4 linked regions of the Homo sapiens genome follow. Each later gene encodes a partner of the first gene's protein in a complex. Links are inferred from orthologs where the notes say so. Each region holds a gene or a part of one and is shown on either strand. Other genes may lie near its edges. The genes, in order: MYO5A, MLPH, SPIRE2 and RAB11A.

Region 1 (9,245 bases):
CACCCTGACTGAGGAGAGTAATTTGTGGCCACCAGCCAGGTTCTTTGTGGACTAACAGCTTTGATTTTTATTTGTAGGTTTGATGAGAAGAGGGCAGTGCAGCAGCTGAGAGCATGTGGTGTCCTGGAAACCATCCGAATCAGTGCGGCCGGTTTCCCCTCACGGTGAGCCTGGCATTTTTCAGATGTAAGGGATCCTAATGGGAGAAGATCCTAGTTCTTTAAGTAAACTCAGATGGTTTTCTTTTAATAGGTGGACTTACCAAGAATTTTTCAGCCGCTACCGTGTCCTAATGAAGCAGAAAGATGTGCTGAGTGACAGAAAGCAAACATGCAAGAATGTGTTAGAGAAACTGATACTGGTGAGAATGATTTCGCTTACCGTCATCTGAGCAGAAGGCCTTGTGGTTCTGACCTTGGAAAGCCCCGGGAACTTTTGTATAACATTTTACTAGTCCAGATCATTTCGGGGTGGGATCAGAGAGGGGCACACTACTGTGTTTAGGATGCTGGAACTAGCGAGGATGATAGTCCACCGTCAGGAGGCAGAGCTGTGAGGCCTGGACCCACATTTGAAACACATTCTTCTTAGACAGCTTGATTATTATTGATAAAAGTGTACCTAGTACTTACATCTAGAAGACACCAGGCCAAATGCTGTGTGATTAAGAAAAAATAAAGCTTGTTCTCAGGTAATATAGTCTTACTTGGAAAGTAATACTTTTTAAAGACGAGTATAATATTTAACTGTAGTGTCTATATCAAATGCTGAATGAATGGAACAAGAAATCAGGGGATGACAAAGCGACGTCCAGCTATGGGAAGGAGAGATTTCATCAAAGAGGTGTGTTTTGAGTCAGGCCCTGAGAATGGGTAAGGTTATGCAAAAATGGAAGGAGACTATTATAAGAGGGAGTAAGAGCAGGGTAAGCATAGGGTTTGCTCAGAAAACAGTTTTTTGCAGTGTGAGATTTGTGTATGGGACAGTAGAGAAATGGTTAGGAAATGTAGGTTGGTGTTACAGAGAGTCTTGCAGACCAGGCTAAAGAGTTCTCCAACTTTACTGTGACCTGGAATGCTTGTTAAAATACAGATTGCTGGGCCCCGCCATCAGAATTTCTGATTCAGTAGGTCTGAGGTTGGGCCCAAGAATTTGTATTTCCCGGGTGATGCCGATGCTGTCTGAGGACTATATTTTGAGAACTACTGATCTTGGTCTTAGAGAATTAAAGATTCATGAAAAGTTTTTAAAATAATATTTTCACTTGGTTAACACTATCCTAGATGGAGTACCTCACTTTGAGCTAATTGATCATAATTACTAGCTGTGAACTAAATGTGATGCCTTTTTTTTGTTAATAATATTTTTTCCTTGAAAGAGCTAAGGCCACTTCCTCAGCAATGCTTTTTTTTTTTTTTTAACTGGGGCTTTTTGAGTTTGCCCCAATTCCCTTCTTTTTTTTTTTTTTTTGAGACAGTCTTGCTCTTTCACCCAGGCTGGAGTACAGTGGCATCTCGGCTCACTGCAACCTCCGCCTCGTGGGTTCAAGCCATTCTCCTACCTCAGCCCCCCCAGTAGCTGGGATTATAGGTGCACACCACCACACCCAGCTAATTTTTGTATTTTTAGTAGAAACAGGGTTTTACCATGTTGGCCAGGCTGGTCTTGAACTCCTGACCTCGTGATCTGCCCGCCTCGGCCTCCCAAAGTGCTGGGATTACAGGTGTGAGCCACTGCGCCCAGCCTGCCCAATCCCCTTCTAACCTGTGTTCAGGTGGGAATGTAGAGCAGAAAGTAGGAACAGGCCTATTCCTGGTCCTCTCACCCAGGCCATTTCAGGCCTGGATCAGGGCTTTGTGGGAATTTAGTTAGGCAGAGGAGGCTGAAAGATGGAGGCAGGGTTGGTGTGAGGTGTGAAGCGGGATGCGGGTAAGGACCACTTTTCTAGCTAGGTTTCCAATGTAAACTTTATTGATTTAAATTGAAATAATTGTAGATTTTTTAGATATATGTGGATGTGTCAGATTTTTTGGTTTCATATATGAGATAATATGAGATATCTACTCATAGGGAAAAATGATTTTCTCTGTTTTCCCTTAGACTTTCAGATCACATGGCCAAGCATGGTGGCTCACGCCCTTAATCCCAGCACTTTTGGAGGCCGTGGCGGGCGGACTGCTTGAGGCCCAGCGTTTGAGGCCACCCTGGCCAATATGGTGAAACCCTGTCTCCACTAAAAATACAAAAATTAGCTGGACGTAGTGGTGTTTACCTGTAATCCCAGCTACTCAGGGGGCTGAGGCAGGAGTGTCGCTTGAACCCAGAAGGCGGAGGCTGCAGTGAGCCGAGATTACAGCACTGTACTCCAGCTTGGGAGACAGAGCGAGACTCATCTCAAAAAAAAAAAAAAAGAATTCCAGGTCACAGTAATGATTCTTACATATAAATTCCATTCTTTGATGCAAGAATGATTAATGATTTGCATACTTCTAGATAAGGTGAATCACAATGTAATATAAATTATTATGTTTTTGTAAAAGGAGTTTGAAAGGATTTTTTTTTTTTGAGACGGATTCTTGCTCTGTTGCTAGGCTGGAGTGCAGTGGCGCGATCTTGGCTCACTGCAACCTCCACCTCCTGGGTTCAAGCAATTCCCCTGCCTCAGCCTCCCAAGTAGTTGGGAATACAGGTGCATGCCACCATGCCCGGCTAATTTTTTGTATTTTAATAGAGACAGGGTTTCACCATGTTGGCCAGGATGTTCTCGATCTCCTGACCTCATGATCCGCCAGCCTTGACCTCCCGAAGTGCTAGGATTACACACGTGAGCCACTACACCCGGCCAATTTGTAGGATTTTAAACATATTTATGGGGTTTTGTTAGTTTGTTTTCAGATATTATTGATAAAGCCAAGAGCTAACTGTTTAGAAACATAACTCAATATGAATACCCAAGGATTTTGGTTTTTGGTTTTTGAATTTTATTTCATAAACGTTTCTTCCTGCCTTATTCTTCACACTGGTGTTTTTGTCCCTTCAGCTTCTCATGGAATATACAGCCCGCTGTAATCCTTACAACCTGGGTCAGTCAGAGAGAGTCAGCATCTCCATTTCCTTGAGATGTTTAAAACACAAACAAGCAAATAATAACTGCCTATAACCCACAACCAAGTTTTGGGCCTCAGATAATAATTCCAGGTAGAATAATTCTGGAAAATAACTCTTAAACTGCAGTTTTTCTTAAAATCCCTTCTATTTGCTCAACTTGCATAGGATTAAAAATCTGGCTCCATTAGTTAATTGTGATGTAGCCCAAGTTTTAGCTAATAGAGTCATTCCTTTACTGATTCTGCTTTTAGACATTTTTTCTTTTAAATTTCACTTATATGATTATTATTTCTGAATATACAATTTCTTCCAAAAATAGGACAAGGACAAATACCAGTTTGGTAAGACAAAGATCTTTTTCCGTGCCGGTCAAGTGGCCTATCTAGAAAAATTGAGAGCTGACAAACTGAGAGCTGCCTGCATCCGGATCCAGAAGACCATCCGAGGGTGGCTGCTGAGAAAGAAGTACCTACGCATGCGGAAGGCAGCCATCACCATGCAGAGATACGTGCGGGGCTACCAGGCCCGATGGTAGGTCTCCTGGGGACAGAGTAGAGTGCCCATCTAATTCACTGTCCAACCAAGGACAGTTTTGACTGGTCACCATAGCTGAAAAGATAACACCTCACCTTTTCTTAGTTCCAAGGGACAACAAATTAACTCATAGGACAGCTAAATAGAATAAAATTTCACTCAGCCTTATGAATGATTCAGATTTATCTTCAAAACATTTACAAACTGCTGCTTACTTATGTCCTCAAAATTTTTATTTTTGATACTTTTATATTGGGCTTGAGGAAATCATGTATCAATTAAAACAGTCGTGAATATGAGCTAGGTAATAATGACTTCATTGTATAATTTTTGGGAGCAATTAACTGAGAGGGTCTGGAAGAGAATTACACTTTAGTGTGATTACTTATTAGTTTAATTTTAATTGAGAAGTATAAGTAGAACTGAATTAATCATGAGCTTATAGCCTAACAAAATCAGGAAAAATATGGTAGATGAATAATGGCTAGATCCAAGAAAGCTGGTGATAACTAAGTATGAGATTACTGTGTATGTCTGTCTGTTCTATAAAGAGGCATGGCCTGGGGTAAATGGATCCTGTTGTAGAAAGAATGAATTTTTGTGAATTTTGCTTTCTTGTAAAATCTGGCAATGTGGGCCATCCTACTTTCCAGAGTTAGGGAGGGCTCAAATGAGATAATAAATGCAAAAATACTTTGGGAAACTATAAATTGCTATACAAATGTAAGTAAATATAAATGTTGACTTAGCATGCACATTATTAGAATAATACAATGGAGGTACTATTTATGCCTAAAACAGTGACACTCTTTAAGTTTCTCTAATATGTATTCCTGCATTTTTTTCTGATTACTGACAACATAATGTTATTTTCTTTGGCCAGCTATGCTAAGTTTCTGCGCAGAACCAAGGCAGCAACCATCATTCAAAAGTACTGGCGCATGTATGTGGTCCGCAGGAGGTACAAGATTAGACGAGCTGCCACTATCGTTCTTCAGTCTTACTTGCGAGGCTTCTTGGCCAGAAATAGGTATCGCAAGGTGAGGCATTATTTTCAACTTTGTTTATTCATTCTATTAGCATTAACCAAATTTCACATCTATACAGAGTACCACAGGGGCTACAATGAAGGTAGGAACTGTATGGGGACAACCAGCTATTGAAATGCATATTTATTTATTTTAAAAAATTCTTTTTTAGAAATAGGATCTCGCTCTGTCACCCTGGCTGGGGTGCAGTGGTGCAGTCATAGTACACTGCAGCCTCAAACTCCTGGCCTCAAGCAGTCTTCCCACTGTGGCTTCCCAAAGTGCTGAGATTATAGGTATGAGCCATTGTGCACATGCCCAGCCTGAAATGCATTTTAAAATACTAAATAATCACATACAGTTATTAACAAAACAATGGGAAAAAAACTTTTACCTCCTTCTTTCTCTTTGTTTATATAATTTGAAAAAAAAAGTATGTTAGTTTACTGTGGCTGCTATAATAAATTATCACAAACTTGTTACCTTAAAACAGCCAAAATTAATTCTCTCAGAGTTCTGGAGACCAGAAGTCCAAAATCATTATCAATGGGACAAAATCAAGTTGTCAGCAGGCTGCTCTCCTTCCAGAAGCTCCAGGGGAGAATCCATTCCTTGCCTCTTGCAGCTTCTGGTGGCTGCCAGCATTCCTGTGCTTGTAGCCACATCAGTCCAGTCTCAGCCTCTGTTTTCACAGCATTTTCTCTTCTGTGTATCTGACTTGACTTCTCCTATCTGCCTCTTATAAGAATAATTATGATAGCATTTGGTTCCACCCATGTGATCCAGGATAATCCTCCCATCTGAAGACCCTTAACCTAATCACATCTGCAAAGGCCCTTTTTCTGAATAAATAGCATTTGCAGGTTCCAGGGATTAGCACCTAATTTCCTTGGGGCCCCCTATTCAGATGACTACAGAGAACTTTGAATAGATAGAATATATGACAAACAGGTTAAAGGTTATTCCAAGAATGAGACAACCTTGGAAGAATTTACCATGGTGAAGAGGAGGCAAATTATAACATTAATGTGGTTAAAATTGTATTGACAGATACAATGCTCCAAAAGTTTTTGACAAATAATCTTACATCTAGCAATAATTAATGGGGTCACCAGAGTAGTCTTAATTATCACCTGTGACCATTGATGAACGATTTTTATCTCTTTCATTTTGGCAAGGTTTGGAGTCTATCCTACAGGCTATATTTCAAATCAGTGAGAAATACAAGCCTGGATATTAGAGCTCTATGGACATCACCATTAGAAGGAGCATTAATGGGGTGATTTGGGTCTCTAAGCACAGACAGTATATGGGTGTGACCTAGGCCCTATTTATTTATTTATTTATTTATTTATTTATTTTTATTTGAAGTGATTTTAGACAACAAAAAATTCGAAACTGGTGAGGCTTGAATGAGTGTATTTAATAGCTGTGTTTTGAAGATAGCTACTCCAGATCTTTCTGCTCACCCCTCCTTTATGTAGTCTCATGCTCTTTCTATATAAGCGTGAGATTTTAGGGAGGAAAGAGGTTTGAAGTTGCTTTTCAGATACACCAAACTAGTTACCTTCCTGTGTTCCTCACTACTTTCCTTAGGAACATCTGAGCTGGGTTTTGAGGTCACTGGTTTAGCAGTGGCAGCCTCCGGCCAGCTCAGGCTCCCACTGTGACTGGACAGGGTGGAAGGTGGTAGCGTAGAGGCTTGCTCACATGTAAGCCAACAGCCATCACATTAGTGCTCCTTCTAGCTGTATTTCAGGTCCAAGGTTCCCCTTCATGAGATTTGGAGTGGGGGGGTCTTAAAGAGAGTACAGGTGTTGATTAATTTCTCTCACTCATGATGAAAGTGAGATTGAAAATGGAAGCTCTGATTAAATGCTGTTTCCATTTGACTAAAATTACAAAAATGGACCCATGTCCAAAGTTACATGGGAGAAGCAAATGGAACAGGAAAATTGGCATTAATAGTTTTATTTATCCAGTCACTGTGCCTGGCTACCTCTTCTTAAAATTCAAGAATTTCTTCTCCATCTTTCCTAGAAAATGTTTACACGGTGTCTTTTTGGTGCTCTTTAGCGACAACAAATTCATCTAATAAGGCAAACTTTTGTTTGTTTATAAGTTTAGGGAAATATCATTTTTTTTTAGGAAATGTAACATAAAATCAAAAGTAAGATTAGTTTGTTTCACATCTTTTTACTTTTACCTTTCATTTTAAAGCCCCATCCCTCCTACCTTTGAATCCCAAAAGTGGATCCTTGCTACATTTGAAATAGCAATGGAAAATCCTCACTAGAATGGTATTCCTCAAATGTGGTAAACAAGAGTGTCATCTTTTAGTTTCTAAAAAAAAAAAAAATCAATAAATCAGTACAAACTTTTTAGTACCCCAAGTGTTGGCCTCTACAGACAGTTTGCTGCCCATACCCCGTGTCCTCATGCACGGGCCTAATAATGCATAGTGAGGTGGTATCAGCAGTCAGGGTGGTGGGGATATCTCTTATTTTAGTAGCACATAGTTTACAGGATGCCTGGTTCTGTTAATTTTATAGAGGATCATCTGTTGCCAACAGAAATCATATACTAATAAGAAACCTAATGTATTTTTTCTTTCTTTTTATAGTTGTTTTTCTTTTGGTAATCTGGTGCTTTTTATTTAGACAGCTTCCAACTCTATATTCTGCTTAGAATTATACACATAATATGTGCATATGACACATTTTTATGTATGTTTCTGAAATCACCTTCTAAAGTCTACTTTTCAAATCACTTTTAAAAATAATTTTGTAGCCTCCATATATCTGTGATAAGTATAATCTACATAGTACATTGTCAATTCAACTTTTATGTCTTTTCCTCTAGGTAATGTGTGGATTTTCAGCCCGACATAGATTGATAATCATGAGTGTAGTCCAGGGTCTTGACATTGCTTGCCCTTATCCTTTTCTGCAGATACTCCGTGAGCACAAAGCAGTCATCATTCAGAAGCGAGTCCGGGGCTGGCTGGCCCGCACACACTACAAGAGGAGCATGCATGCCATCATCTACCTTCAGTGCTGCTTCAGGCGGATGATGGCCAAGCGTGAGCTAAAGAAGCTCAAAATCGAGGCTCGCTCAGTGGAGCGCTATAAGAAGCTGCACATCGGCATGGAGAACAAGATCATGCAGCTGCAGCGCAAAGTTGATGAGCAGGTGTGTTTCACAAAGGGGCCCTGAGAGTGGAGTATGCCTGAAGAAATCCACCAGGATTATTTTCAATATTGTTTTTCTTTGACTTTACCCTTCGGTCTTAGTAAAAAGTAAAATTATGACCGTATTTATTTCCATAATGGGCATGGAAGTACTTATGAACTCATAAGGTGGATCACAATTGCAAAAACTAAGGCAGGAAGTTATTATTATTATTATTATTATTATTATTATTATTATTATTATTACTATTATTTGAGACAGGGTCTCACTCTGTCGCCCAGGCTAGAGTTCAGTGGCATGGTCACAGCTCACTGCAGCCTCAACCTGCTGGGCTCAAGTGATCTTCCCACCACAGCCTTCTGAGTATATGGGACTACAGGCACGTACTACCACACCCAGCTAATTTTTTTATTTTGTAGAAACAGGGTCTCATGTTGCCAGGCTGTTGCCTCAAGCAATCCTCCTGCCTCAGCCTCCCAAAGTACTGGGATTACAAGCATGAGCTACCATGCCTGGCAGGAAATTATTTTTGAGAACAGAGATCTACTAATGCTTCAAACCTTTATGACCAAGAGTCATATTGTATGTTACTTATTTTTCAAACACCAGCTTGAACCAGGCATACTGTATTTTGTACTTGGCAATGCTCTATCAAAATTATCATTTATTTTCATGTGGTATCATGTTCATTTTACAGATGAGTTGGTTTAGCATTGAAATAGCAAAAGCATCAGGAAAATGTTGATGCTTCTGATGAACTTGCAATCTGTTGCAGAGATAAAAGTTTGTTTGATTAAAGATAGTTACTAATATTTTAGCACATGTAAATGATATAAAGGTAATTAAGAATATAAAAATGCTAAGGAGAGCAAAGCAAAACAGGGATCAGAATGAAATGGGATGGAAGATTTTCTGAGTGGGAGGGAGAAATTTTGAGGTAGTAAACATAAAGATTTGTGAGAAACGTGTGTGTGTGTAGGGAGAGGGTTTTTTTTTTTTGTTTTTTGTTTTAGGACAGATTCTCACCCTGTCACCCAGGCTAAAGTACAGCAGTGCAATCACGGCTCACTACAGCCTCAAACTCCTGGGCTCAAGTGATCCTCCTGCCTCAGCCTCCCAAGTAGCTAGGACTACAGGTACACACCACCATGTCTAGCTAATTTTTAAATTTTTTTGTAAAGACGGGGTCTCATTATGTGCCCAGGCTAGTCTTGAACTCCTGGCCTCTTGTGATCCTCCTGCCTTGGCCTCCCAAAGTGTTGAGACTATAGGTGTGAGCCACTACACCTGGCCAACTTGGGATTTTGAGGCTGTTTTAATCATTCGTACGCATCACTAAGCTAGTAAATGGTTTTTAGCAACATTTTGATCTGTTTTCAAAAA
Region 2 (4,817 bases), on another chromosome or scaffold:
CCAGGGCCACAGTGAGGAAGAATGTTAATGCCAGTGCCAGAGCAAAGGAGAAAGAAGTTGGCAAAACTGTTGATTTGCATGACAGCTGAAATGTAAATACTTTTTAAAAAATATGTGATGTGGAAGCTTCTTAAAAGGGGATATGTCCATTTTTTTCTACCTTTTAAATTTCTGAGGAGGCCAAGGCACTTGTTTGGGCTAAGTATGTGATTGATAAAGCACCATCCCTCTTCCTGTTTTCCCCAAAGGTAAAGATGATGATTCTTTTGATCGGAAATCAGTGTACCGAGGCTCGCTGACACAGAGAAACCCCAACGCGAGGAAAGGAATGGCCAGCCACACCTTCGCGGTAAAGTTTTCTCTCATTCTCTGAGGAGTTTTTAAAGTTCAGTGACCCGTCAGATTTATGTATTAAAATTAAGTCTTCAGAGCAAAGAAAATGGAGATAAACAAAACAAAGATTCAGACCTGAGAATCAAAGCAAAAAGTAAAGTAAAATCTTTGCCAACGAGGGCTTGAAAATCTAAATACTTTGAAATTAGAATAATATCTTGTGTTTTAGAGCTTTAAATTTTCAAATATCTGCTGTCCACACACCCCATTGGAGGAGGACCTGTGTCACTAACCCAAATTTGTAGCTGAGAAAACAGAGGCAGAGAGAGGTTAAGTAAAAAACCCCAAGAGAGTTCACCTAATATTGTGAAGAAAGCAAACCCAGGGTTTCACTAACTTGTCCATGTGTGTATGTGTGTGGCTGCGTTCACCCCTGTGTGTGTGTGTACTGTGTGCATGCCTGTGTGTTTGTGCACACCCATGTGTATGTACCTGCATACACACCCAAGTGTGTGTGTTACCACAACGAAAGCGCAGATTTATTGAAAAGAAAGTGCACTCCACAGAGTGGGAGCAGGCTAGAGCCAGTGGCTCAGGAGCCTGGTTACAGCATTTTCTGGAGTTTAAGTGCCCTCCAGAGTTTTCCCATTGGTTACTTGGTTATACTCTATGCAGATGAAGGAGTGGCCCCAACCAATGTGATCAGTCGCAGGAGGCAACCAATCAGAGGCTGAAGGGAAGTTACAAAGTTACACATGAAGACTTGGCCGATGACCAGTCTGGTTGGTTGCGGGAGGGGACCAATCCGAGGTACTTTCCATTTTCATCTGAGATGCAGTGGAAAGGGGGTATAGCAAAGGGAGTAGCTGCTGAACCTTTTGTTCCTCAGGCATGGAGAGGTGGGGTTTTCATTTTGATTCAGTTCTAGGAAGTCAGCACGAATTGGCCTTAGGTTCCCTGCCTCCAGACCCTATTCTCTTGCCTCACATGCATGTGTGCACAAACGTGTAATCTAAATTTGTGTCTACAGATGTGCACATCCATGTACACACCTGTGTATTTGTATGTGCATGCCCATGTGTGTCTGTGTTACATGCCTGTGTATGTGTGTGCTTATATGTGCATGTGTGTTTGTACTTTACAGAAACCTGTGGTGGCCCACCAGTCCTAACGGGACAGGACAGAGAGACAGAGCAGCCCTGCACTGTTTTCCCTCCACCACAGCCATCCTGTCCCTCATTGGCTCTGTGCTTTCCACTATACACAGTCACCGTCCCAATGAGAAACAAGAAGGAGCACCCTCCACATGGACTCCCACCTGCAAGTGGACAGCGACATTCAGTCCTGCACTGCTCACCTGGGTTTACTGATGACTCCTGGCTGCCCCACCATCCTCTCTGATCTGTGAGAAACAGCTAAGCTGCTGTGACTTCCCTTTAGGACAATGTTGTGTAAATCTTTGAAGGACACACCGAAGACCTTTATACTGTGATCTTTTACCCCTTTCACTCTTGGCTTTCTTATGTTGCTTTCATGAATGGAATGGAAAAAAGATGACTCAGTTAAGGCACCAGCCATATGTGTATTCTTGATGGTCTATATCGGGGTGTGAGCAGATGTTTGCGTATTTCTTGTGGGTGTGACTGGATATTAGACATCCGGACAAGTGACTGAACTAATGATCTGCTGAATAATGAAGGAGGAATAGACACCCCAGTCCCCACCCTACGTGCACCCGCTCTGCAAGTTCCCATGTGATCTGTAGACCAGGGGAAATTACACTGCGGTCAAGGGCAGAGCCTGCACATGACAGCAAGTGAGCATTTGATAGATGCTCAGATGCTAGTGCAGAGAGCCTGCTGGGAGACGAAGAGACAGCAGGCAGAGCTCCAGATGGGCAAGGAAGAGGCTTGGTTCTAGCCTGGCTCTGCCCCTCACTGCAGTGGATCCAGTGGGGCAGAGGACAGAGGGTCACAACCAATGAGGGATGTCTGCCAAGGATGGGGGTGCAGAGGCCACAGGAGTCAGCTTGCCACTCGCCCATTGGTTACATAGATGATCTCTCAGACAGGCTGGGACTCAGAGTTATTTCCTAGTATCGGTGTGCCCCATCCAGTTTTAAGTGGAGCCCTCCAAGACTCTCCAGAGCTGCCTTTGAACATCCTAACAGTAATCACATCTCACCCTCCCTGAGGTTCACTTTAGACAGGACCCAATGGCTGCACTGCCTTTGTCAGAGGGGGTGCTGAGAGGAGTGGCTTCTTTTAGAATCAAACAGTAGAGACAAGAGTCAAGCCTTGTGTCTTCAAGCATTGACCAAGTTAAGTGTTTCCTTCCCTCTCTCAATAAGACACTTCCAGGAGCTTTCCAATCTCTCACTTAAAACTAAGGTTTGAATCTCAAAGTGTTGCTGGGAGGCTGATACTCCTGCAACTTCAGGAGACCTGTGAGCACACATTAGCAGCTGTTTCTCTGACTCCTTGTGGCATCAGATAAAAACGTGGGAGTTTTTCCATATAATTCCCAGCCTTACTTATAAATTCTATTCTTTGAAAAAATTATTCAGGCTAGGTAAGGTGGCTCATACCTATAATCCCAGCCCTTTGAGAGGCCAAGGTGGGAGAATTGCTTGAGGCCAGGAGTTTGAGACCTCCTGGGCAACATAGTGAGATCCCATCTCTACAAAAAACAAAACAAAAAAATTACCCAAGCATGATGGTATATGCCTGTAGTCGTACCTACTTACTTAGGAGGCTGAGGCAGGAGGATCACTTGAGCCCTGGAGGTTGGGGCTGCAGTGAGCCATGATCGCATCACTATACTCGAGCCTGGGCAACAGAGTGAGACCTTGTCTCTTAAAAAAATTAATAATAAATAAATGAAAATAATTCTTCAGAGTTCCTTTCCTAGCAGATGGCTATTCTGGAGATGTGTAGTGGAAGCTGCATACAGGCAGGTCAGGGATCCCTGAGGCTAGTGTACCCCAACCAGTACAGCTGCTGGCTCTTTGTTTCCAGCTAAAGATTGACAGAAGTCAGTGGTTTCTCTATGACTCCAGAGGGAGATTAGAGACAAGCATTTAAAATATTTCTCCAAAGTTTTATCCTCCAACAGTCTTATTTATAAGGGGAAAAAGAAAAAATTTTAGGAAGCGTTGAATGCACAGATCTCCCAAAGATGCTTCTTACAAATGAGCTATGAGTGTGCAGCAAAATTGCACTCCCCAGATAATCCAGTATCCAACATATTGCAATATAGCACCCAGATCACCAAGGGATACCTTGCCTCACTGCAGATTATTGGGGTGAAACACAATTTGACAGGTGTAGCTCCCAGCTCTCAGGGATCAAACCAACCATGCATTACAGTGTTGCAGTTTCACTGATTTTATGTCAAGCCATTGTTTCTGTAAGTTCCAAGGATTTTCACTTTCCAACAGCTCTATCCAAAAGAACCCACTTTACTGGGGGCCAAAAACCCATCCCCAAAAGAGTAATAGTAATGGTATTGTCACTTGCTGGGCTTCTGAGAGCCCAGCTAAAGCTCCACTTTAGCATGCTGGTGACAGCCAAGTAATCCTCACATATTCACAATGCTCATAACTTCAAAGTTATTCTTATAGAGAATATTTATTACATATGAATTTTTTTTATTTTATTGGGATAAAACAGAAAAGATAGATATGCAAAAGAAAAAAAATACATAAAAAAAGAATCATCTACCCACTAGCAACCACTGCTAAGTCCTTGCAGACATTGGTTCACGTATTAGCTTTTAATAAAACTCCCACAAGTTAATATACTAGTAGGTGAGTAAAGCCCATTCCAAACATGACCGCACACCTATATCTTCCCAGGAAAGAGCCAGCCCCAGAAATAAGTATTTTACCCATGTATGCTACCCATATTCCCCTGAAAATATCTACAGCAAAGTCTTCCCAGAGACAGCCTTGCTGTCTAAATGAACAAACTGCTCAGTTATTTCCAATGAACACACCTGCAGCTCAATGGCATCTGGGCTCAGAGTTCCAAGGACATGGCCATGCTGGGGAAAGGAGTATTTTGCTACATCACCACAGACACTTGTAACAGTCTATGATTGTTAATTTTATGGATCAAATTGGCTCAGCTGTGGTGCCCAGATGTCTGATCAAACACCAGCCAAGATGTATCTATGCAGGTATTCTGTAGCTGTGATTAAGGTTTAAATCAGTAGACTTTAAAGCAGATAACCTGCCATAAAGTGGGTGGGCCTTCCCCAGCCAGTTGCAGGCCTTAGGAGAAAAGACAGATGTGCCCTGAGCAGGAAGGAGTTCTGCCTCCAGACTCCAGGGACAACTTTCCTCCTTCGCTGGGTCTCCAGCCTGATGGCTAGTCCTGCAGGATTCAGACCTCCCAGGCCCTGCAATCTTATGAGCCTATTCCTTAGACTAAATCTCTCCTCCCCCTCTCTCTCTCTCCCTCCCTCCCTCTCTCTCTGTTCTC
Region 3 (7,590 bases), on another chromosome or scaffold:
GACAAAATTAATTACAATGTATTGTGGGTTTTGTAACACGTGTGTAAGTAGTGTTGATAACAGCAGTTAGCATGAAGGTCAGGGAGAGGGGAAAATTGGAAGTATACTTTTTTTCCTTTTTTTTTTTTTTTTTTTTGAGAAGGAGTCTCGCTCTGGCGCCCAGGCTGGAGTGCAGTGGCACGATCTTGGCTCACTGTAAGCTCCGCCTCCTGAGTTCCCACCATTCTCCTGCCTCAGCTTCCCGAGTAGCTGGGTCTACAGGCACCTGCTACCACTCCCAGCTAATTTTTTGTATTTTTAGTAGAGATGGGGTTTCACCATGTTAGCCAGGATGGTCTCGATCCCCTGACCTCAGGATCTGCCCACCTCTGCCTCCCAAAGTGTTGGGATTACAGGCGTAAGCCACCGCGCCTGGCCAGAAGTATACTATTTTAAGGTTCACTATGGTAAGGTGAATCACTATGATAAGGTATAGTAAGGTATTATACACGCTATACAAATATTACTTAAAGGTAGACTGTGATAAGTTAAAGATGTATACCATAAGTCCTAAAGCAACCACTAAAATAAAACAGTTACAGCTAATAAGCCAACAAAGGAGATAAGATGGGACCATAAACAGTAATTAATCCAAAAAAAGGTAGGAAAAGAAGGAGAACAAACAAATGAGTCAAAAACAAAACAAATAGCAAATGACAGCCTTAAACACAACTGTATCTCGCATCACATTAACTGTAAGTCATCCACACGACCCAAGTAAAAGTTAGAATTTCCCAGACTGAATAAAAAAGTAAGGCTGGGCCGGGCGCGGTGGCTCACACCTTGATCCCAGCACTTTGGGAGGCCAACGCTGGCAGATCACGAGGTCGGGAGATCGAGACCATCCTGGCTAACACGATGAAACCCTGTCTCTACTAAAAATACAAAAAATTAGCTGGGCGTGGTGGCGGGTGCCTGTAGTCCCAGCTACTCGGGAGGCTGAGGCAGGAGAACTGCTTGAACCTGTGAGGTGGAGGGTGCAGTGAGCCGAGATCGCGCCACTGCACTCCAGACTGGGCAACAGAGGGAGACTGTCTCAAAAAAAAAAAAAAAAAAAAAAGGTAAGGCTGGATATGGTGGATATGGTAGCTCATGCCTATAATCCCAGCACTTTGGGAGGCTGAGGTGGGAGGATCACTTGAGCCAAGGAGGTCAAGGCTGCAGTGAGCTATGACGGTGTCACTGCACTCCAGCCTGGGTGACAGAGCAAGACCTGTCTGGGAAAAAAAAATCACCTAATTTTATCTGTAAAATTATGTATATTTCTGTTGATATATGCTTGGAAAAGCCTGGAGGATGGAAACCATTACTAGCAGGGATCACTTCTGAGCATGTGGTGTCTACATTTTAATTCTCTCATGTTTGAATTTTTTTTTTTTATTTTTTTGAGATAGAGTTTCACTCTTGTTGCCCAGTCGGAAGTGCAATGCCGCGATCTCAGCTCACTGCAACCTCTGCCTCCCAGGTTCAAGTGATTCTCCTGCCTCAGCCTCCTGAGTAGCTGGCATTACAGGCATGTGCCACCACACTTGCTAATTTCGTATTTTTAGTAGAGATGGGGTTTCTCCATGTTGGTCAGGTTGATCTCCAACTCCCGACCTCAGGTGATCGCCCACCTTGGCCTCCCAAAGTGCTGGGATTACAGCGGTGAGCCACCACGCCCAGCCTTGAATTTTTTTTTTTTTCTTTTTTCTTTTTTGAGATGGAATCTCACTCTGTCACCCAGGCTGGAGTGCAGTGGCACAATCTCGGCTCACTGCAAGCTCCACCTCCCGGGTTCACGCCATTCTCCTGCCTCAGCCTCCCGAGTAGCTGGAACTACAGGTGCCCGCCACCAGGCCTGGCTAATTTGTTTGCATTTCTAGTAGAGACGGGGTTTCACCATGTTAGCCAGGATGGTCTCGATCTCCTGACCTCGTGATCTGCCCATCTCGGTCTCCCAAAGTGCTGGGATTACAGGCTTGAGCCACCGCGCCCAGCCTTGAATTTTTTATAAGAAGGTATTTATTTTTGAAATCAGATATGGGAATTAAAACAAAATTGAATCACTGTTTAAAACTGAGCATCTCAGTTGAGGCCCCTCTAGCTTCCATGGTGCTTTTATGGTGAGTAGTGTCAGGTACACACCAATGTCTACACGTCTTCTTAGAAGGAATCTTAGATGTCTTTCCAAGACAGTGTGCAAGTTTTTTTTTTGTTTTTTGTTGTTGTTGTTGTTTGCTTTTTGTTTTTTTTGAGACAGAGTCTCTCTCTGTCACCCAGGCTGCGGTGCAGTGCCATGATCTCGGCTCACTGCAACTTCCGCCTCCTGGGTTCAAGCAATTCTCTGCCTCAGCCTCCCGAGTAGCTGGGATTACAGGTGCCCGCCACCATGCCCGGCTAATTTTTTGTATTTTTAGTAGAGACGGGGTTTCACCATCTTGGCCAGGCCGATGTTGAACACCTGACCTCGTGATCCACCTGCCTTGGCCTCCCAAAGTGCTGGGATTACAGGCGTGAGGCATCGCGCCTGGCCGACAGTGTGCAGTTTTTAAAGACCCTTGTAGGTTTTTGTTTTTAAACTTTCCAAAAGTATGTGACCCATCATGGCTTGGTTCAGAAAGACCCATCATGCCTTGGTTCAGAAACAAAAATCTGCTTAAGAGGGACTTTTACCACCATTTTTTTTTTTTTTTGAGACAGAGTTTCGCTCAGTCCCCCAGGCTGGAGTGCAGTGGCGTGATCTCAGCTCACTGCAACCTCCACTTCCCAGGTTCATGCCATTCTCCTATCTCAGCCCCCCAAGTAGCTGTGATTACAGGTGCCTGCTGCCACGCCCAACTCATTTTTGTATTTTTAGTAGAAACGAGGTTTCACCTTGTTGGTCAGGCTTGTCTCAAACCCCTGACCTCAGGTGATCCACTTGCCTTGGCCTCCCAAAGTGCTGGGATTACAGGCGTAAGCTACCACATCTGGCCCACCACCACTATGTTTAAACCTTACTCTATATCCTACCACTTGGCAATAGAAAACTTGGCAGGAGAAAACTCCTGGAGCCATCCTTCCTGAGAGAATGCCAAGGAGCACATATATTTTGGGTGGATACCTAAGTATAAAGAAAAGCAAGATTTTGGAGTAAAATAAAGTACTGAAGTAACCAAGCATCAGGCAGAAGGCAAGGATGGTTTGACCTCGGATGCGTGGAGGCCGGGATGCGACTGTTTCTCAGCTGTTTGTGGGCTTCCTCCCTGCTGATGCTGCATTTCCTCTGTTCCCTTCCAGAGCCGTCTGCACTTCCTGTAGCATAAAGGTGAGGACCATGTGGGATCTCTGGGGTCTGAGCAAGGCAGATGAGGGGCTCCACTGGCTTTGATTGGATGTGTTGGATGATGCTGCCTCACCAGGCACCTCATCCATTTCCTTTCAGGCAGAATCCATTCCTATACTTTCCAAGATAGTGTGCAGTTTTTAAAGACCCTTACAGGTTTTTGTTTTTAAACATTGCACGTTAGTAGCCTCGTGCCAAAAAACCCTTCACTTCCCCTCTAAAAGTCCTACCTTCTTACATTCTATAACTTTTTGGGTGTTTTAGGAGGGGCTTCTTATTGCAGTTGAGGTGTGTGCTTATGTGCAGGTGCACAGAGGTAAAGGGATCCTAACATTTAAAAGTATGTCAGCTGGGCACGGTGGCTCACACCTGTAATCCCAGCATTTTGGGAGGCCAGTGAGGCTGGCGGACCACTTGAGACCAGCCTGGCCAACATGGTGAAACCCCATCTCTACTAAAAATACAAAAAAATTAGCTGGGCATGGTGGCACGCACCTGTAATCCTAGCTACTCAGGAGGCTGAGGCATGAGAATTACTTGAACCCGGGAGGTGGAGGCCACAGTGAGCTATGATTGTGCCACTGCACTACAGCCTGGGTGACAGAGACTCCGTCTCAAAAAGACAAAATACAAATAAAAGTATGTCACCAGCCAGGCGCGGTGGCTCATGCCTGCAGTTCCTGCACTTTGGGAGGCTGAGGTGGGAGGATCTCTTGAGCCCAGCAAATTCAAGGCTGCAGTGAGTATGGCTGTGCCTCTGTACTCCAGCCTGGGCAATAGAGCAAGATCTGTGTCTTAAAAAAAAAAAAAAAAAAAAAAATATATATATATATATATATATGTTACCCCTCAGGCCTCAGTTCAGAAGCAAAACTCTGCTTAAGGAGTACTCTTACTACCACTATTTTTAAATCTTACTCTACATCCTGCCACTTGGCAATGGAAAAACTTCCACCTCATCCATGTTAAATGTTGATTATGTGCAGGGTAAGGTGGCAGGTCCCGTATAGTATAAAAAGGGAAAGTTCTTGCCCTCTAAGGAGCCCCTGTCCAGATGAGCAGGAAACGTGGCAGGTCCCGCATGGTATAAAAAGGGACGGTTCTTGCGCTCTAAGAAGCCCCTGTCCAGATGTGCAGCAAGCAGGAACCCCGTGCCAGTCTTCAGCCAAAAGGCACAGAGGAGACATCGGAGAGCACAGGGACAGAGAATATTCTCCAGGAAGCCCTGGCTGCCACGCAGGTCCCAGACTGGGGAGGGAGGTCCCCTAGCACTGAGTGTACCTGAATGTCTCTGGTGGTGCCTGGTTCATACCTCCTCCCTCTGTGCTGCAGATGAAGATGCCTTCTAAGAAATTTGGACACATCCCTGTCTACACACTGGGCTTTGAGAGTCCTCAGAGGGTATCAGCTGCCAAAACCGCGCCAATCCAGAGAAGAGACATCTTTCAGTGCGTTCTTCGCCTTGCTGCTGATGTCACTGTGGTGGTCGGGCGTGAAGAGGAACTTGGGAGCTGGGGTGGAGGGGGCTGGCTTTGTCTGTTTGCTAGGACACCCCAAGGAAATGGAAATGCAAGGCAGAGACGGATCGTTGTGTAGGGCTCTGGGAGGCTGAGCAGTATGAGATGGAAACTGGACTTGGGTGGTCAGGGAACAGTCTGCTGAGATGAACACTGCTAGCTGTGTTTGTTGCCTGAGGGCCAAGGGGAGGCCTAGGGTGAAAGGCAGCCAGGAGGGGGCTGTGGCATGCACAAGCAGGGAGGGGGGTGTGGCACCCTGGCTGGCTCCTCTCCCTGAGTGCCCTCTCCCACTTCCCAGGTCTCTGCAAGGGCCACAGTGGCAGAGCGTGGAGGAGGCGTTCCCCCACATCTACTCCCACGGCTGTGTCCTGAAGGATGTCTGCAGTGAGTGCACCAGCTTTGTGGCAGACGTGGTGCGTTCCAGCCGCAAGAGCGTGGACGTCCTCAACACTACGCCACGACGCAGTCGCCAGACCCAATCCCTCTACATCCCTAACACCAGGACTCTTGACTTCAAGTGACAGCCCCAGGTGGCCAGGCCTCCAGGAGGCACCAGGCAGGCCCTGTATCAGGCTAGGACGCTCTGAGCTGTGCATGTACATATATACATATATAGATACATTTATAATATATACACACAGTCTATATATTTATATACACTGTTTCCTGGCCCCAGAGCTCATTTGGGTTCAGGCGCACTTCAAAACCCTCCCTGGGGGAGGCTGTTTCTTCTCAGGATTCCTTGCCAGGGAGGAAGGGGAGGGAACAGGGTGGGTTTTCTCACTGAAGAGAGAAAGCAGAAGGTTCTAGATCCTGGCACAGACTGCATCCCATGTTCCCATGCTCTTCTCCGTCCCCAGGAATGCGAACGGCAGTTTCCCTTCCCCAGTGGACGTCTAGGTGGGGACAGGGTATCTTGGCTCCCAGCTGGACCAGAGTGCCCTGCTTGCCTCTGCTCTCCCTTTGTGGGGACTCAGGCAGCAGAGGCATCTGGGAAGTCTCTGAGTAGGCAGGGTCCTCCTGGGAGGCACCCCCACCTGTTTGAAAGGTCTGGCCAGGCGTGGTGGTTCAGGCCTGTAATTCCAGCACTTTGGGAGGCCGAGGAGGGAGGATCACCTGAGGTCAGGAGTTTGAGACCAGCCTGGCCAACATGATGAAATGTTGTCTCTACTGAAAATGCAAAAATTAGCCAGGTATAGTGGCAGGAACCTGTAATCCCAGCTACAGGGGAGGCTGAGGCAGGAGAATCGCTTGAACCCGGGAGGTGTAGGTTGCAGTGAGCCGAGATTGCACCACTGCACTCCAGCCTGGGCGACAGAGCGAGACTCTGTCTCGAAAAAAAAAAAGGTCCGTGCCAAGCTGCTCCCTGCCCTTGCCCTTTCCCTTTCCCTGGGGTCCAAACCACATGTGTCCTGCCTCTCCTGGCCCTACCACATTCTGGTGCTGTCCTCACTCGCCCCTGGCCCAGAGGCTCCTGAAGATGCTGGGCGGTCCTGGCACAGGGAGGAGCAGCTCTGTAAATCTGTGCACATGGCCACTCTTGGCCTAATAAAGGAGGTCTCACAGTCTTCTGTCTGGGATGTGCGCTGAGGATTCACCCAGCATGGCATGTTCTCCCAAGGTTGAAGCTGGGCTTGAGGGGCCACCTGCCTTCCAGGACGAGGAAAGGCCTCCTGGCTTAGAGTCAGGTGCCCACCAGGCAAGGGCTCCAGGCCTGCTCTGTCCACGCAGCCCTGGCTGCCTCTACCAGCTTCGTGGTCCTGGCCACCATGGTCAGGGCTGCATGCGGACGGCACAGACTACTGCCCATCAGCTCCTCTGGCCACACCTGCTGGCCTGGGGGGTACTTTGGTCTCATTTCCCAGATCCGTATTCTCGTTCTCCAGGGAGAGGATCCACAGGGGCAGGAGGTGTGACTGCAGGCTCTAGACAGGCCCTGTGCCGAGTGCTGTCTGCTCACCTGCGCCCGGCTCAGCCTGTTAACGGGGCCCTGCCCTGCTCCTCCGTGACGTTCTGCCGTCATCTTACCTTACAGATGAGGGAACTGAGGCTCAACGAGGTCAAAGAATTTGGCCAAAGATACACAGCTCACCCAGAACTTTGACTCCAGGCTGTAATGCTAGCCGTGGGGCCTGGAGGTCAGAAGGGACAGGACTTGTAACTGATGGGCCTGCGGGAGAAAATACTCCTGTCAGCTGGGGTCCAGGAAATCCAAACACACAAAATTAGAGCCCCCAGTAAAAACAGCCAGCTTCTAGCATGCGTGTAAGCATTTCACGGACTCTCTGGCCTGTATTTTTATTCCTGTTTAAAAATAAGAAAACAGGCACAGAGAGGGTCAGGGAACTCCTCCGGTCACACAGCCAGCAATAAGCTAATGTGTAGTGCTTGGTAAGGACGACGGTTGTTCTGGTTCTACGGGGACTCACACTCCCTATCATGGGGAGACTGGGTTGTAATTCATACAGGAACACTTGGAAATGAAAGCCCACGTTAAAACCCTAAACCACGGCAGGTGCAGTGGCTCACACCTGTAATCCCAGCACTTTTGGAGGGTGAGGTGGGCAGATCACTTGAGGTCAGGAGTTCGAGACCAGCCTGGCCAACATGGTGAAACCCCATCTCTACTGAGTACAAAAATTAGCCGGGCATGGTGGCACATGCCTGTAGTCCCAGCTACTCGGGAGGCTGAGACAGGAGAAGTGCTTGAGCCTGGGAGATGGAGGT
Region 4 (7,440 bases), about 13 Mb from region 1:
ACATTTTTGTTTTTTTTTTGGAGACAGAGTCTTGCTCTGTTGCCCAGGTTGCAGTGTGGTGGTATGATCATGGCTCATTGTAACCTTGAACTCCTCGGCTCAAGTGATCCTCCCACCTCAGCCTCCTGAGTAGCTGGGACTATAGGTACATAGGTGCCATCATGTCTGGCTAATTTCTCCATTTTTTGTAGAGATAGGGGGGGTCTCGCTAGGTTGCCTAGGCTGGTCTTGAACTCCTGGCATCAAGTGATACTCCTACCTTGGCCTCCCAGGCACAAGCCACCATGCCCCATCTAAAAATTGTATTGTGAAATAAACCTAATACTATTACAAAAGTGCATAAAACTGGTATGTAGAGTTTAACACACAGTTATAAAGGGAACAACCCTGTAAAAATCCTTTGAGTTAAGAAATAGAACACTGAGGCCGGGCGCGGTGGCTCACACCTGTAATCTCAGCACTTTGGGAGGCCGAGGTGGGTGGATCACTTGAGGTCAGGAGTTTGAGATCAGCCTGGCCAACATGGTGAAACCCTGTCTCTACAAAAATACAAAAATTAGCCCGGTGTGGTGGTGCATGCCTGTAATGCCAGCTACTCAGAAGGCTGAGGCAGGATAATCACTTGAACCTGGCAGGCAGAGGTTGCAGTGAGCCGAGTTAGTACCACTGCACTCCAGCCTGGGCGATAAAGAGAGACTCCATCTTGAAAAAAATAAGAAAAAAGAAAGAAATAGAAGAGTGATAGGTTTATTTAACAAATGGAAGCCACTATGGAAGCTTTCTGTGTCAGGCCGGTGGCCCCCAGGCTCTGCTTTATGGGATACTGACGGGAGGAACGTCTGTCCCTGGGCATTCTTCCTGAGACCTAGGGAGTGAGTTCGCTTTCTTCAAATGAGCTAGGACAGGGAGGTGAGGATCATGGCACCCTGCCCCTTTCCCATCATAGGCTCTGGCCTCGCATCTGGCTAATTCTTAAAATAATAACTCATGGTTCTCAACTTTGGTAACTATTAACATTTTGGGCCAGATAATTCTTTTTGATGGGAGTGCTATCCTGTGTGTTGTAGAACGTTTAGCAGTATCCCTGGTCTCTACTAGATACCAGTAGCACTCCCAAGTAGTGACACTAAAAATGTCTCCAGATATTATCAAATGTCTCTGGGGACCAAATTGACCCGTTGAAAATCATTGCATTTGGCCAGGTGCAGTGGCTTATTCCTGTAATCTCAGCACTTTTGGAGGCTGAGGTGGGAGGATCGCTTGAGCTCAGGAGTTCAAGAACAGCCTGGGCAAAGATGGCAAAACCCCATCTCTACAAATAATACAAAAATTAGCCAGGTGCGATGGCGCACACCTGTAGTCCCAGCTGCTTGGGAGGTGGAGGTGGAGGTGGGAGAATTGCTTGAGCCCAGCATATGGAGGTTGCCGTGAGCTGACATCGCACTACTGCACTCCAGCCTGGGTGACGCAGCAAGACCCTGACTCAAAAAAAAAGAGAAAAGAAAATCAATGCATTCATAAATATTTATTATATGCCATGCATGATATTAACAGCTATACATTGTTACTTAATTCCTTCTTCCTGTTTGTCCCCATTTTGCAGGTAAGAAACTGGGATTCAGCAGGATTAAATTATTGAAATTGACACAGCTTTAGTGAATGGCTGAGCTGAAGTATAAACACAGACTTATCAGTCCTCACTTTGTTTTTAACAAACATGTAAAGTTACCTCCCCAGATGTGGAGGGTGAGATATATTTCAGGTCTTGCTTCTCCCCCATAGTCTAAGGCTAGGCATTTCTAAATTTATAATTCCAGGCTTTTTACTAGAGAGTTCCTTTTGATTTTCTTACCAACTGTACTAGTCAGGGTTCTCTAGAGGAACAGAACTAATAGGATAGACACATATATAAAGGGCAATTTATTAAGTAGTATTAAGTCACATGATCACAAGGTCCTACAATAGGCCTTCTGCAAGCTGAGAGGCAAGGAAGCCAGTGCGAGTCTCAAAGCTGAAGAACTTGCAGTCCAATGTTCGAGGGCAGGAAACATCCAGCACGGGAGAAAGATGTAGGCTGGGAGGCTAAGCCAGTTTAGCCTTTTCATATTTTTCTGCCTGCTTTATATTCGCTGGCAGCTGATTAGATGGTGCCCACCCGGATTAAGGGTGGGTCTGCCTTTCCCAGCCCATTGACTCAACTGTTTCTGCTTTGGGAACACCCTCACAGACACAACCAGGATCAATACTTTGGATCCTTCAATTCAATCAAGCTGACACTCAGTATTAACCAACACACCATTTTTATTAGTCATGCTTGAGACTAAATTAAACATTAGTGTTCTTTTTTTTTTTTTTGAGGAGTCTTACTCTGTCACCAGGCTGGAGTGCAGTGGCGCAATCTCGGCTCTCTGCAACCTCCATCTCCTTGGTTCAAGCAATTCTCCTGCCTCAGCCTCCTGAGTAGCTGGGATTACAGGACCTTAGATAAACTTACTATCACTTTATAGCAGTAGAGAAAGCACGGAAATTGGCACTGTATTTGTTTTCTATTGCTTCTATAACAAATTACCACAAACTTGGTGACATAAAACAACACAAATTTATTGCTTAAAGTTCTGTAGGTCACAGGTCTGACAAGTGTCTCATTGGGCTAAAATCAAGTTGTCAGCAGGGCTGTGTTCCTTCTGGGGGCCTTATGGAAGAATCTGTTTCCATGCCTTTCCCAGCTTCTAGAAGCCTCCAGATTCCTAGGCTCCTGGGCCCTTTCCTCCATCTTCAAAGCCAGCAAGGGCAGATTGAGGTCTTTTCAAGTCACATCACTCTGACCTCTTCTGCCTCCATTTTCCACTTTTTTTTTTTTTTTTTTGAGAACGAGTCTCTCTCTGTTGCCCAGGCTGGAGTGCAGTGGCGTGGTATCAGCTCACTGCAACCTCCGCTTCCCGGGTTCCAGCAATTCTCATGCCTAAGCCTCCAGAGTAGCTGGGACTACAGGCACCCACCACCACGCCAGACTAATTTTTTGTATTTTAGTAGCGACAGGGTTTCACCTTGTTGGCCAGGCTGGTCTTGAACTCTTGACCTCAGGTGATCCACCCACCTTGGCCTCCCAAAGTGCTGGAATTAAGGCCTGAGCCACCGTGCCCAGCCCATTTTCTACTTTTAAGGACCTTATGACAACACTGGGCCCACCCAACTAATCCAGGATAATATCCCTAATTTAATGTCAGCTGATAAGCAACCTTAATTTCATCTGTAACCTCAATTCCCCTTTGCCATGTAACCTAACCTATTCAGTCTCCAGGAATTGGGAAGTGGACATCATTGGCAGGGGGCATTATTCTGCTTGTTATAGGCATACTTGCCCACAAGTCTAAATCGAGAGTTTGCATATAGGAGGTAGGAGGTGTGACAATAATTGGATAAAGGCTTTTCTGGAATGACAAAATTCTCTTCAAATACAGGGAGGCCCTGCGACATGATATCTGGCAAATCACTTGAGTCTTAGTATCCAAACTTCCGCTAAAATGGAAATTACCATCCTTTGCTTGGCATGTTAAATGAAATACTTATGTAAACGGACTTAGATTAGAGGCCTACAAATAGGACTCAAGTTCTTGATGAATCTTGATGAGGAGGGTGGGCGAAGTACTCTAAATGAAAATGAGATAGATTGCGAGATTTCCGGAGAGGAGTGAGTGACAAGCGCCTACCCGTGCATGAAGCTGGAGGTAGAAAATTCCAGCAAAAGGAATTTTCAAGTTTCACTGAAGCTTTTGAATCAAGGCTTGAAAGCCCAGGGTTAAAAAAAAGGCAGTGAAGAAGCTCATTAAGACAACCCCCCGCCAGGTAGCAGATAGCACCTGAAATGCAGTGGGAAATTTGTGAGGTCTTCATAGGCAAGGATTAAATTTTACATCTCCATCTTAAGATGTGTCATAGTTGTTCAATTACTTAGTGACCAAAAAAGTGAATTAAAGATGTTGTCAAGATTAAAAAAACAAAAACCAATGCAGGTTCCACCGAGATTTGAACTCGGATCGCTGGATTCAGAGTCCAGAGTGCTAACCATTACACCATGGAACCGCCACGCATGTGTAGCTGCCTTCGGCTGTCTAATCCTCAGAGAACCCCGCCCCCATCCACAAACCCACCACTCACAGGCGGTCCCGCCTGGTTCCAGCGAGCCGCTTCCGGCACGGTAGCTCGAGAAATGAGCAAGCGGCCACTAAGACTATGGTAGCTAGGAGTTCCAGGACTCAGTTTCCCCTTTGAGCCTCCTTTAGCGACTAAAGCTTGAAGCCCCACGCATCTCGACTCTCGCGCACACCGCCCTTGTTGGGCTCAGGGGCGGGGCGCCGCCCCCGGAAGTACTTCCCCTTAAAGGCTGGGGCCTGCCGGAAATGGCGCAGCGGCAGGGAGGGGCTCTTCACCCAGTCCGGCAGTTGAAGCTCGGCGCTCGGGTTACCCCTGCAGCGACGCCCCCTGGTCCCACAGATACCACTGCTGCTCCCGCCCTTTCGCTCCTCGGCCGCGCAATGGGCACCCGCGACGACGAGTACGACTACCTCTTTAAAGGTGAGGCCATGGGCTCTCGCACTCTACACAGTCCTCGTTCGGGGACCCGGGCCACTCCCGGTGGACCCTCGTGCCGGCCACCCCTGCACTGATATAGGCCTCCCTCAGCCCTTCCTTTTTGTGCGGTTCCGTCTCCTACCCAGCTCAGCCTCTTCTCCCCCGCTCAGACAGGGGTCCCCATCACATGCCGCTCTCTGAGCGACCTCTCCATAGGCCTTCGCTGGCCTCAGAGCCCCTCCCTGCGTGTCCTTCCCCTGGCGGACTGCCTTCTCCCACATCGTCGAATTCCTTTCCCCGGGTTCTACGGCCCCGCCGCTCCTCCCACCATCTCTCTTTTCGGGTGTAGCGCCCCCTCCCCCTCGGCGTACACCCTTCCCAGCTCGCGTCCTCTCCCGAAGCCCCTCTGACGGGTTCTTCGCTTCCCTCTTGGCCTTGCCTTCGGTGCAGACTCCCATTACAGGTCTTTTTCTTATCTGCCCTCTTTCCCCCCTCGAGCGAGCGTCTCTTCTGTATCTCCCCTCCACTTGGACGGCCGCCCCTCTAAGCTTCTCCCATCCCGGGTCCAGGACCCCGTAAAATCTGAGCGGGCCAAGGGCCTCCGCCCCCACCCTCCGCCCCGCGGTTCTCGCGGTCCTTAACCTTCTCTGACCGCTCCCTCTCCCACTCCCCATTTGGCAACTCTCTCTACCTTCCCTCCCCAAATCGTGTTTAGAGCTCCCTTGTCTCCGTTGCGACCTGGGTGGTGGGAGGGAGGGTAAGAGGGATCGCCCATCACCCACTCGCGCACTTGTCGCAGTGACCCGGCAGGCTGACATTACTTCCCACCTAGCCTTTTCTTTTCTTGCCCTCCCTACTCAGTGGCACCCAACCCGGGATAACTCTTTACTCGGTTCGCGAGATGAGGTTGCGGATGGGTGGTGGCTGTTATCCTTGCCAGACCTGAAGGCCTGGTTCCTGAGCAGGAAAGGTTGTGCGCTGCACAAATACTAGCTTGCTTTATCTCTATGAACTGGTTGCTTCCTGCTGCAACGCTGGGAGGATCCAACAGGAAGGGAAGAGCCCTAGTTAGCCACATACCTTTCCCAAAAGGTTGGGGGTGGGAGGAAGTTGTGTGCTCTTTTGGTTACATTAAATATTTATTATAAGATACGGAAACATGTAGTGCCCTTGGACAGAACATATTGGAGGGTCAGGGTTGGTTAGAAAGAATTGCTTATTGGTTGAGTCCGGAAGGAATCCGGTTTTTTTTTTTAATCAACGAAGATAAAGGGTACATTTTTCAATGAGAAGAGAGTACAGTAGATGCTTTTTTTGTTCAGTGAATGCACTCTCACTCTGATGCTCTTTCTCTGCTCCTGAATTGGGAAGGTAGCCATCAGTAGTGTGCCGAACAAAGATCATTACCACTGAGGAAGAAGCCATTGCTATTAAAGCTTTACTGTGGAGGGTGGAGTTTCAAGAGTGTTAAGCATGGTGACTGTTTCTGTCTTTGCCATTGGGTGCTAAGAATGATTGACTAAACCAAGCAGGAAAGATTTCTTTGCTTTCCCAATACTTTGCAAATCTTGTTATACTAACTAGTCTGCTGTTATACTCTTATCATCTCTTACTCCTCTGACTCAGAATATTCTACTGTATAGGGTGAATACTTTTGGTATCCACCCTCCCCCTCCATACTGGAAAGTACTTTCAGGGTACTTAGTTCATTTTACAAATACAAAACTGAGGCCTGGATTACAAAAAGTATATGACAGCATACCTTTTGCCGAAGGTATCTGAGATGATGTGAAACTATTTGAATCTCTTGAGACTTTGGGGTTAAAGGTTAGGTTTGTGTTTTGAAATATGGTATAATGGTAGTGTGCTTTTATAAAGGTTGTCTTTGAAGTAATTAATTCAGAACAAGATAGACCGTCAGGGTATTTCTCCTGTTTGGTTTGAACTTGAATGTTGGTTATACAAGGTCCTTTTATTTTTTAACAAAGAATATTAAATATTCTGAATTGGCCTAAAGTATTTTAACTTTTTGATTAGACCATCCTTCTAGCAACAATTGAGAGCACTGAGCTTTGGAATCACGTAGACCTCGGTTTAGATCCTGACTCAGGTCTTATATTTACTTTATGACCTTGGAAAAGTTAACTTTTCTGAGTCTCAGTTCTCTACTTTATAAAAAGGAAAATACCTGCCTCTTAAGATTGTGAGAATTAAATAATGAGACTGTTCGTAAAATTTTAACCATGAGGACTCAATAAATGGTAATAATGTGAAAGAAGTTACTGTGGTTTTGTCAGTTTTTTTTTTTTTTTTTTTTTTTTTTTTTGGAGACAGGGTCTCGCTCTGTCCCCCAGGCTGGAGTGCAGTGGCACAATCAAGGCTCACTGCAGTCTCGGCCTCCTCAGGCTCAGGTGACCCCCCGACCTCAGCCTCCCTAGCTACTCTCTAGCTCCTAGGAGTAGCTGAGACTACAGGAGCGCGCCACCACGCCCGGCTAGTTTTTTGTTTTTTTGTAAAGACAGGGTTTTGCCATGTTGCCCAGGCTGGTCTCGCACTCCTGGACTTAAGCAATCCACCTTCCTCAGCCTCCCCAAGTGCTGGGATTATAGGCGTGAGCCACTGTGCCTGGCCTTTGTCAGTTTTTTGAACCTTAAATGTAGGTTCAACTACAAGAGCATTTAAATATTATTAAAGAAAATAAAACTAGGAACTTCGAATGCATTTTATGTTTCCATGGGTTATGGTTTCATTTTGTTGTGCATTTTGCTGTTTAAGATAGGGTGTTAAAAATTCTGCTAAGGAGGATTTCTACTTTTTTTTTTTTTTTTTGAGATGGTATTTCGCTCTTGTTTCCCAGGTTGGAGTGCA

Evidence for each region.
Region 2: the proteins of MYO5A (region 1) and MLPH are in contact, whole or in part, in a crystal structure (PDB 4KP3), measured with the Mus musculus proteins. The link is inferred for Homo sapiens from one-to-one orthologs. Residues at the interface, in NP_034994.2 of Mus musculus: Asp1524, Val1527, Arg1528, Leu1531, Thr1532, Ile1535, Asn1536, Lys1539, Ser1570, Gly1571, Leu1588, Thr1589, Asn1590, Phe1591, Asp1592, Leu1593, Ala1594, Glu1595, Tyr1596, Val1599; in NP_443748.2 of Mus musculus: Lys184, Lys186, Arg187, Leu188, Leu189, Ser190, Phe191, Arg192, Asp195, Phe196, Glu197.
Region 3: the proteins of MYO5A (region 1) and SPIRE2 are in contact, whole or in part, in a crystal structure (PDB 5JCY), measured with the Homo sapiens proteins. Residues at the interface, in NP_001369276.1 of Homo sapiens: Asp1551, Val1554, Arg1555, Thr1559, Ile1562, Asn1563, Lys1566, Ser1597, Gly1598, Leu1615, Thr1616, Asn1617, Phe1618, Asp1619, Leu1620, Ala1621, Glu1622, Tyr1623, Val1626, Asp1629, Leu1630, Gln1633; in NP_115827.1 of Homo sapiens: Arg404, Pro405, Arg406, Val407, Leu408, Leu409, Lys410, Ala411, Pro412, Thr413, Leu414, Met417, Glu418, Met420.
Region 4: the proteins of MYO5A (region 1) and RAB11A are in contact, whole or in part, in a crystal structure (PDB 5JCZ), measured with the Homo sapiens proteins. Residues at the interface, in NP_001369276.1 of Homo sapiens: Ile1660, Gln1661, Trp1738, Met1742, Arg1745, Tyr1746, Ser1749, Gln1750, Glu1753, Arg1756, Gln1777, Gln1780, Val1781, Lys1782, Lys1784, Met1795, Glu1818; in NP_004654.1 of Homo sapiens: Arg33, Glu35, Ile44, Gly45, Val46, Glu47, Phe48, Ala49, Thr50, Gln63, Trp65, Gln70, Tyr73, Ala75, Ile76, Ala79, Arg82.

Annotation. Positions count from the first base shown.
Region 1 is NC_000015.10:52,370,741-52,379,985, reverse strand, and holds part of MYO5A (unconventional myosin-Va), read left to right. Parts: intron 1-77; coding exon 78-164; intron 165-252; coding exon 253-361; intron 362-3,427; coding exon 3,428-3,639; intron 3,640-4,525; coding exon 4,526-4,682; intron 4,683-7,622; coding exon 7,623-7,862; intron 7,863-9,245. UniProt on the Homo sapiens protein: Processive actin-based motor that can move in large steps approximating the 36-nm pseudo-repeat of the actin filament. Can hydrolyze ATP in the presence of actin, which is essential for its function as a motor protein. Involved in melanosome transport.
Region 2 is NC_000002.12:237,552,089-237,556,905, forward strand, and holds the end of MLPH (melanophilin), read left to right. Parts: intron 1-248; coding exon 249-349; intron 350-1,008; coding exon of another isoform or gene 1,009-1,035; exon of another isoform or gene 1,036-1,143; intron 1,144-1,477; coding exon 1,478-1,504; 3' UTR 1,505-3,234; downstream 3,235-4,817. UniProt on the Homo sapiens protein: Rab effector protein involved in melanosome transport. Serves as link between melanosome-bound RAB27A and the motor protein MYO5A.
Region 3 is NC_000016.10:89,864,889-89,872,478, forward strand, and holds the end of SPIRE2 (protein spire homolog 2), read left to right. Parts: intron 1-3,300; coding exon 3,301-3,328; intron 3,329-4,678; coding exon 4,679-4,794; intron 4,795-5,161; coding exon 5,162-5,384; 3' UTR 5,385-6,431; downstream 6,432-7,590. UniProt on the Homo sapiens protein: Acts as an actin nucleation factor, remains associated with the slow-growing pointed end of the new filament.
Region 4 is NC_000015.10:65,865,051-65,872,490, forward strand, and holds the start of RAB11A (ras-related protein Rab-11A), read left to right. Parts: upstream 1-4,440; 5' UTR 4,441-4,535; coding exon 4,536-4,575; intron 4,576-7,440. UniProt on the Homo sapiens protein: The small GTPases Rab are key regulators of intracellular membrane trafficking, from the formation of transport vesicles to their fusion with membranes.